Linked DNA regions of Homo sapiens: region 2 is linked to region 1. Evidence: fine-mapped expression QTL. Tissue or cell type: uterus. Region 1 holds a variant in brackets; the other region holds the start of a gene. All regions are shown on one strand. Distances are between the middles of the regions.

Region 1 (4,360 bases):
GGCTCAAAGTCCAAAATCAAGGTGTCAGTGGGATTCTGAGGGCTGTGAGGGAAGGATCTGTTCCATGCCAGTCTCCTGGATTCTGGTGATGGCTGATGGTCCTTGGCCTTCCTTGGTTTGTAGATGCATCACTCCTATCTCTGCCTCTGTCTTCACCTGGCATTTGCCCCGTGTCTCTGTGTCTTCACATGGCTATCTTCTTCTCAAGACGGTGGTCATATTGGATTAAGGGCCCAGCCTACTCCAGTTATGACCCCATCTTAACTAATTACATGTGCACTGACCCTACTTCCAAATAAGGTCACATTGTGAGGTACTGGGACCTTTTTTGAGGGGACACAGTTCAACCCATAGCAGAGTACCTGTTGAAGGCTGAGAGCTACTTATCACAGACCACTTGAGCTACAACAGAACATGGCTTCACGCTGTAAGCAACAGAAAGCCAACTGGAGTTATAATCCGGGAAGGGACATCATCAATTGTATTTGGGAAATAACTCTGGCAACAGTGCAGGGAGAGGTGAAAGTGGAGGCCAACTGGTGGCAGGCAGGCCCCTTAGAAGGCATTCTAGTACTCAGTCAAAATATTACGCAGAACTTGGCTTCAGAAAAGATCCAATTTCCAGAATAAAAACCACACGTGTAAAATGTTTTCCTAGCTTTAGTTATTTATAATATGCAAAATTTGTGAACAACGTAAATGTCCAACAATAGAAGAACGGTTTGGTAAATTATAAGCAGCTATTATAAATTGCTCTTTCAAAGCATGTTGATAATACAAAGCTTGTATTTAAATTTTTTTAAAGTAGGGTATAAAGTATACAAGTAAAACACGATTTTGAGTATATTAAATGTAAATGAAAACAGAAAGAAATGATGCCATAATATTAATGGTGGTTTGCTTTATGTGGTGGGATTGTGGGAAGATTTTTTTCAACTTTAAGTATAATTTATGTGCAATAAAATCCAGCAACTTTAAGTGAACAATTCAACAAATTAGGTCAAATATATATAGTCATGGAAGCATCACCATAATGATGATATATAAGAGAACTTTTTTTCTTTTTTTTGAGACGGAGTCTCGCTCTGTCCCCCAGGCTGGAGTGCAGTGGCACAATCTCGGCTCATTGCAAGCTCCGCCTCCCGGCTTCACGCCATTCTCCTGCGTCAGCCTCTCGAGTAGCTGGGATTACAGGCGCCCGCCACCACGCCCAGCTAATTTTTTTGTATTTTTAGTAGAGACGGGGTTTCACTGTGTTAGCCAGAATGGTCTGGATCTTCTGACCTTGTGATCCGCCCGCCTTGGCCTCCCAAAGTGTGGGAGCCACCGTGCCCGGCCTAAGAGAACATTTTTATCCTCTCAAAAGTTTCCTCATGCCTCTGCAGTCAGTCCCTTGGCAACCTGAAACCTGCTTTTTACCACTGTAGTTTCAGCTGTTCTAGAATTTCATGCAGATTAAATTATTCAATATATAGCATTTTGTGTCTGGCTACTTTCACTTCAGTTAATGCTGTTGAGATTCATTTATGCTGTTGCCTGTGTCAGTAGCTGGTTTCTTTTTAGTACAGAGTAGTATTCCAGAGCCTGGCTATGTCATAATTTGTTCGTCTACTTACCAGTTAATGAATATTTGGGTTCAGTATGGTTTTTAACTACTATAAATAAACCTAGAAACTATTGGCTCTTCTAGTTTTTTGTTTTTGTAAATTTTCATAAAAGCCTTTGTAGCCATTCATCTTGGATGAATAATTAAAAGTGGCATTGCTGGATCATGTGATAAGTGAATGCCTAACTTAGTAAGAAATTGTTTCCCAAAGTGGCCATATCGTTTTGTAGTCAATATCAGCATGATATGAGAATTCCAGGTGTTCCACATTCTCACAAGCACTTGGAATTGTCAGTCTTTATAATTTTAGTCATTTTAGTGGGTATAT[G/A]GTATTATCCCATTGCAGTTTTAATTTGCATTTCCCTAATGAGTAGCGATGTTGAACATCTTTTCATGAGCTTATTTGCAATCTGCACATCTTACTTGGTGAAGTGTTTGCTCAGATCATTTGTCCATTTGTTATTGGGTTGTCTGTCTTATTTTTAAGTTAAAAGAGTACTTTTATATATTCTAGGTAGAAATGCTTCATCTTACAGGTGTTTGCAAATTTTTTTCCCTGTCTGAGTCTTGCATTTTTATTTTTTAATGGTGCCTTTTGAAAACCAAGAGTTTTTTCTTTTTATATAGTCTAATTTAAATTTTCTTCTGCACTCATTTTTTGTTTTATTTATGAAATCTTTGCCAAACTCAAAGTTTCTAAGATTTTCGTCTATATTGTCTTCTAAAAAGCTTATCGTTTTAGCTCATATGTTTAGGTTTATGACTTATTTCAAGTTGGTTTTTGTATATGGCATAACGTAAGGGGCAGATTTATTTCTTTCCATGTAGATATCCAGTTTTCCTAGTACCATTTGTCAAAAACGCCGTTCTTTTCCTTTTTGAATTTTCTTGGTACATTTTGGTTGAAATCAATGGGCCATATATGTATGGGTCTGTTTTCAGAATTTTTATTATGTTTGATGTGTATGTGTACACATGGCAATAATCCACTGTCTTGATTATTATGGCATAATAACTGTTAAAATCATATTTTTCTTTTCAAAAATTGTTTTGCTGTTTTAGGTTCTTTGCATTTCCAAAAAAATTGTAGAATCAGCACTTAAATTTCTTCAAAAAAAGTGTTGATATTTTGATTGGGATTAAGTTGAATCAATGTCAGTTTGGAAAGATTGAGTGTCATTTAGCTTTTTGTTTATTTACATATTCTGTAATTTCTCTAAGCAATGTCTTATTATTTTCAATGTACAAGGCTTCCAGATATTTTGTTAAATTTATGCCTATATATTGGATTTTTTGAGTTTTTTACAAATAGTATTTTTCTGTAATTTCAATTGCCAGTTATTCATTGCTACTACATAGAAATACAATTAACTTTTGTATATTGACCATATATCTTGTGACTTACTAAACTCAGTTATTAGTGCTTCTAGCTTTTTTATAGATTCCTTAATATTTTCAACATAGATGATTAAGAAATTTATAAAATAAATAAGTTTTCTTTCTTTCTAATCTATATGAGTTTTATTTCTTTTTCTTGCCTTATACTGGTTAGGACCTCCAGAATAATGCTGGATACAAGTTATGTACTAGACATCCTTGCCTTATGCCCAGTCTTAGGGGAATGTGTTTAGTCTTTCAACATTAAGTATGATAGAAACCACAGGTTTTCATATATGTCTGTTATCAAGTTGAAGGACATTCCTTCTATTATTAGGAACTGAGGGTTTTAAAAATCATGAATGGGTATAGAATTTTGCCAAAAGCTTTTCCTGTATTAACTAAGACAATCCTGTTTCTTTCTTTCTTTTATTTTTTTATACTTCAAGTTCTGGGATACATGTGTGGAACGTGCAGGTTTCTTACATAGGTATACATGTGCCATCGTGGTTTGCTGCACCCTTCAAATCGTCATCTACATTAGGTATTTCTCCTAATGCTTTCCCTCCCCGATCCCCCTATCCCCCAACAGGCCCCAGTGTGTGATGGTCCCTGCCCTGTGTCCATGTGTTCTCATTGTTCAACTCCCACTTAGGAGTGAGAACATGCAGTGTTTGGTTTTCTCTTCCTATGTTAGTTTGCTGAGAATGATGGTTTCCAGCTTCATCCATGTCCCTGAAAAGGACATGAACTCATTCTTTTTTATGGCTGCATAGTATTCCATGTTGTGTATGTGCCACATTTTCTTTATTCAGTCTATCATTGATGGGCATTTGGGTTGGTTCGAAGTCTTTGCTATTGTGAATAGTGCCACAATAAATATACGTGTGCATGTGTCTTTATAGTAGAATGATTTATAATCCTTTGGGTGTATACTCAGTAATGGGATTGCTGGGTCAAATGGTATTTCTGGTTCTAGATCCTTGAGGAGTCACCACATTGGTTTCCACAATGATTGAACTAATTTACACTCCCACCAAAAGTGTAATTAGTGTAAAAGCGTTCCTATTTCTCCACATCCTCTCCAGCATCTGTTGTTTCCTGACTTTTTAGTGATTGCCATTCTAACTGGCATGAGATGGTATCTCATTGTGGTTTTGATTTGCATTTCTCTAATGACCAGTGATGATGAGCTTTTTTTCATATGTTTGTTGCCTGTGTAAATGTCTTCTTTTGAGAAGTTTCTGTTCATATCCTTTGCCCACTTTTTATGGGGTTGTTTGTATTTTCCTGTAAAGTTGTTTAAGTTGCTTGTAGATTCTGGATATTAGCTCTTTGTCAGATGGATAGATTGCAAAAATTTTCTCCCATTCTATA
Region 2 (4,178 bases), 640 kb after region 1:
GAAGAGTGGGACTGGGTGAGATTTCATCACGCTACTCAGAATGGCATGCAATTTAAAACTCACACTTTATTTCTGGAATTTTCTATTTAATATTTTTGGACTGTGGTTGACTGTGGGTATCTAAAACTGCAGAAAAGTAAAACCAGGGACAAAGGGAGACTACTGTATGGAGAAGTGTTGTTTGGGAGTTTTGGAGAGGCACCCCAGTTTGCTCACCAGCCAGTGATATCTACTTTTTGTTTTTCCTGTCCTCTTACTCCTTCCTGCTGCTTGAAACACAAATAAGATGACTGGAGCTTCACCAGCCATTCTGAATCATGAGATGGCCTTATAGATACAAGTCAGAGAGGATATTGGAGCAGAGAGACAGAAAAGCCTGAGTTCCTGATGACCATGGAAACATCGTACCAGTCTTGGAGTGCCAATTCTGTACTTCTTTTATGTGAGAGAGAAATAAATTCCTGTTGTCTAAGCTATTCAGTCTGTGGTATTTTGTTATGACAATCCAAGCTGACTAATACACCTGCTTCTTTTTTTTTTTCAGTCAACATATGCTTGTGCAATTCACTCATGTTCATAAGTGCACCCTGGAACATTACCATGTTCCAGGGCTTCTCCTATAGAAACAGAACATAGCCCAGTTGATTATTTTTTATTCTGATTGATTTTTAGGAGTTCTTTACATAATCTGGGTTCTACTCATTGTGGGTTTTGAGGGAAATACCTTTTCCCAGTTTATGGCTTGTCTTTTCATTCTCTTGATGACGTCTTTTGATGTACATTAAAAATTATCTTTAATACAGTGAAATCGGCTAATCTAGAAAAGGATTTTTTCCTTGGACTGTTCATGGCATCGGTAAATTAAAAAGTAGTTACTGTCAAGTTCACTGCACATAAACCAGCATTGTTAAAAGTGGATCTCCATCATTCCATTTCCTTTCCTGCATTTGTCAGCATCGTTTTTCACACTAAAGATGAGGAGATCCATATTCCTAAGACATATACGCTTGGTCTGTAGAGACCCTCATTGCTCTAAGGCAGTGGTTGCCAGTTTTTTCCTTAAAGGGCCTAGTAGGACATAGTCCAGGCTTTGCCAGCCATACGGTCTGTCACAACTGAATTCTGCTGCCCTTGTAGCATGAAGGCAGCCAAACAATAGGTAAGGAATAAACATGGCTTTATTCGTGGCACTGAACTTTGAATTTCATATAATTTCACAACACAAAATTGTATTCTTTTGATTTTTTCCAATCATTTAAAAATGTCAAAACCATACTTAGCTGGAGGGCTGTAGGAAAACAGGTGGTGGGCTGGGTCTGGCACACAGGCAGCAGTTCGTGGACCCCTGTGCCAAGTGTTTGACGAAGCCCGTGAGGCAAACTGCACTTGCCGATAGAGGTTGCGCCACACAAGTGTCTTGGAAGCAATTTCTGGCTTGTCCTAGGCCTTAGAAAGTGCGTGCAGATCAGAGCCATGAAGTGAAGAGCAAAGCAAGTGACAGGCCTGTCTCAGGTTGTGCAACAGAACGTGTTTATGACAGATGTCCCCTGTCCAAGTGAGTGCACTGTGAGATAAGGGGCCGGTGACCTACCAATGCGTGTGGCAAGCCAGCCTGTTCCCCCTTGCAGGGGGAGGACACTCCTGCCCTTTATTCCAGGGAAGAGTATGTGTAAAAATATTCACCCTTGTTGGTATCAAATGCGCTGAAGAAAATAGGTATCGGGGTTTCAGCCATTCGGTCTCCTTGTTAGTGTTTCTAAGCCCTGATTTTCAGTTTCAAAACCTTGGTCTCTGAATCCGCAGTGATGGGTCTCTAGAGCGAATACATGGCAGGGCCGCCTTCCTCCGTACAGAAAGGGAGAATTGTGCTTGTGTGTTTTACCAAGCAGGACAGATGGGGCCGTCACCCCCGTGACCCGAGCCCTGCAAAACTGTGTTCTCACACGAAAACCCCCAGGCTCTGCGGGCAGCGTGGTCCTGCAGTGGCTAACACTGGGCGACCGGAGTCGTGTTCCGACCCCTAGGAGAGGAACCGGCTCGGTCGTGGTGCAGCCCGCGAGGAGACGACCTCAGGGCGTAATCCGACGCCGTGGGTTAAGACATCAGACCTCAGGCGCAGTGCAGCCGGCCCCTGGGGAGTCAAGGACCTTGATCGCCGATAACAAGTTGCCGTTGGCGGGCGCCGAGGGTGACCCGCGAGCGCGGCACCCGCCTCCCCGCCCCTAGCAGGACCCCCTCCGCCCCGCCCCCAGCCGGACCCCTCCCCGAGGCCCCGCCCCACCCGCGAGCCGCAGCCGCGGCCCCACAGCTTCTGGGGCTGGGGCCCCGGCAGCCGGGCAGGCCGGCCTGACCTCGACCTCCGCCGTGCGGGCCCGACCGGTGAGTCCAGCCCGGCAGTCGCAGGACCCGGCCGCCAGCCTCTCCCTCCACCTCTCCCTGCCCCCAGCGCCAGGCGCGGGCTGCGCTCGGTGGCGGCGGCGGGGCCCTCAGGCGGCCATGGCGGCAGGCGCCGGGGCCGGGTCCGCGCCGCGCTGGCTGAGGGCGCTGAGCGAGCCGCTGAGCGCGGCGCAGCTGCGGCGACTGGAGGAGCACCGCTACAGCGCGGCGGGCGTCTCGCTGCTCGAGCCGCCGCTGCAGCTCTACTGGACCTGGCTGCTCCAGTGGATCCCGCTCTGGATGGCCCCCAACTCCATCACCCTGCTGGGGCTCGCCGTCAACGTGGTCACCACGCTCGTGCTCATCTCCTACTGTCCCACGGCCACCGAAGAGGTAGGGCTGGCCGATCGCCCGAGCCGGGCCCCAGATGCGCTGCGGGCGGGTCGCTGGAGGCGCCGGGGGAAGGGCGGACCCACGCGCGGCTGAGCCTCTCCCGGGCCCCGGAGGGGCGGACTGGCCACTGCCCCGGGCGGTGTCCGCCCTGGGCCGCCTGGAGACTGTCACGCCACTATCCCAATCCCGTGACCATCCCAAGCCTCCCCTGGGCAGCGGAGGGGCTGTTAAGGTCACTGCCCCAGGTCCTATGTCCGCGCAGATCCTCCCCACGGCCGCGGACGGGCCGGAGGGCGCCTGCCCAGCCGCTATCCCATGCGGCGCCAACCTGTGAGACGGACCCGCGGTCGGGTGCTTTGCACACTGGGGACTGAACACCCCCATCTCCGTCCTGCCTGGCACAGGGACTTGTGCCAAGCCCGAGACGCCCTTTGAATACTTTCGTAACCGTTCGTTTCTGGAAGGTTGAGCTAGTGATCTTGAAATGACCGGTAGCACTGATCAAAGATGAGTTAAGAGGTAACTTCCTCTTTGCTTCATCGACTTTTTCAAGAAAAACAAACTGGAATGTTATCAAGGCAATAATTTTTTTGTCATCACAACCTAGGGATTAAAAAAACCCCAACATTTTATTAGCAATAATTACATTTGACCTTTGTACAAAATAAGGAGTAAATATAGGCTTTGGATAGCTGTTCATCAGAAGCACCCTTTGGGCTGAGTGTGGAGGGATAGGGGGCAGAGTGGAGTTCACTCCCATCTATAGTTTATACTACGTGGGATAAATATTACATTGCACATTCTGTGACATTACTTTCTATTCTCTGCTCCAAATAGTGAAGTCCCTTTATAATCATTTGAGTGTAGGCCTTGTGGAGGACTCATGGAGGTTGAGGTTGGATTAACAGAAATACAGTGGAAATATTTCATGCCCTCCATGCATGCATCCATTTTGTTGTTGTTTTTGAGACAGGGGTTTACTCTGTCACCCAGGCTGGAGTGCCGTGCCGTGGCTCGATCTCGGCTCACTGCAACCTCCGCCTTCAGGGTTCAAGCGATTCTTCTGCCTCAGCCTTCCAAGTAGCTGGGATTACAGGCGCGTGCCACCACGGCCGACTCACTTTTGTGTTTTTAGTAGATACAAGGTTTCACCATGTTGGCCAGGCTCATGCATCCTTTAAAAACAAAAATTTGATCGAGCCTACATTTTAAAATATCTTGTCAATGGATTGGTATGCTTATTATGTATTTCTTTTCTTTTTTTTTTTTTTGAGACAGAGTCTCGCTCTGTCACCCAGGCTGGAGGGCAATGTGGTGATCTCGGCTCACTGCAACCTCTGCCTCCTGGGTTCAAGCGATTCCCTTGCCTCAGCCTCCTGAATAGCTGGGACTACACGTGCCTGCCACCA

The links. PIP is the estimated chance that this variant, and not a neighbour inherited with it, causes the effect.
Region 2: CHPT1 starts here. The variant in region 1 is fine-mapped to the expression of CHPT1 in uterus (GTEx, PIP 0.97).

What each region holds. Positions count from the first base shown.
Region 1 is chr12:101,053,449-101,057,808 of GRCh38, forward strand. All of the region lies in intron 14 of ANO4 (anoctamin 4), which reads left to right. Among named protein-coding and RNA genes, the nearest start is that of SLC5A8, 150 kb to the right of the region's middle. The variant G/A (reference allele first, on the strand shown) is at 1,935.
Region 2 is chr12:101,695,366-101,699,543 of GRCh38, forward strand. It overlaps CHPT1 (choline phosphotransferase 1), which reads left to right and starts at 2,275. Exons shown (of 9, transcript NM_020244.3): 1 at 2,275-2,769. The coding sequence starts at 2,497. It also overlaps a transcript of MYBPC1 not described here. RefSeq lists an enhancer at 1,749-1,998 and silencers at 2,219-2,558, 2,819-3,008.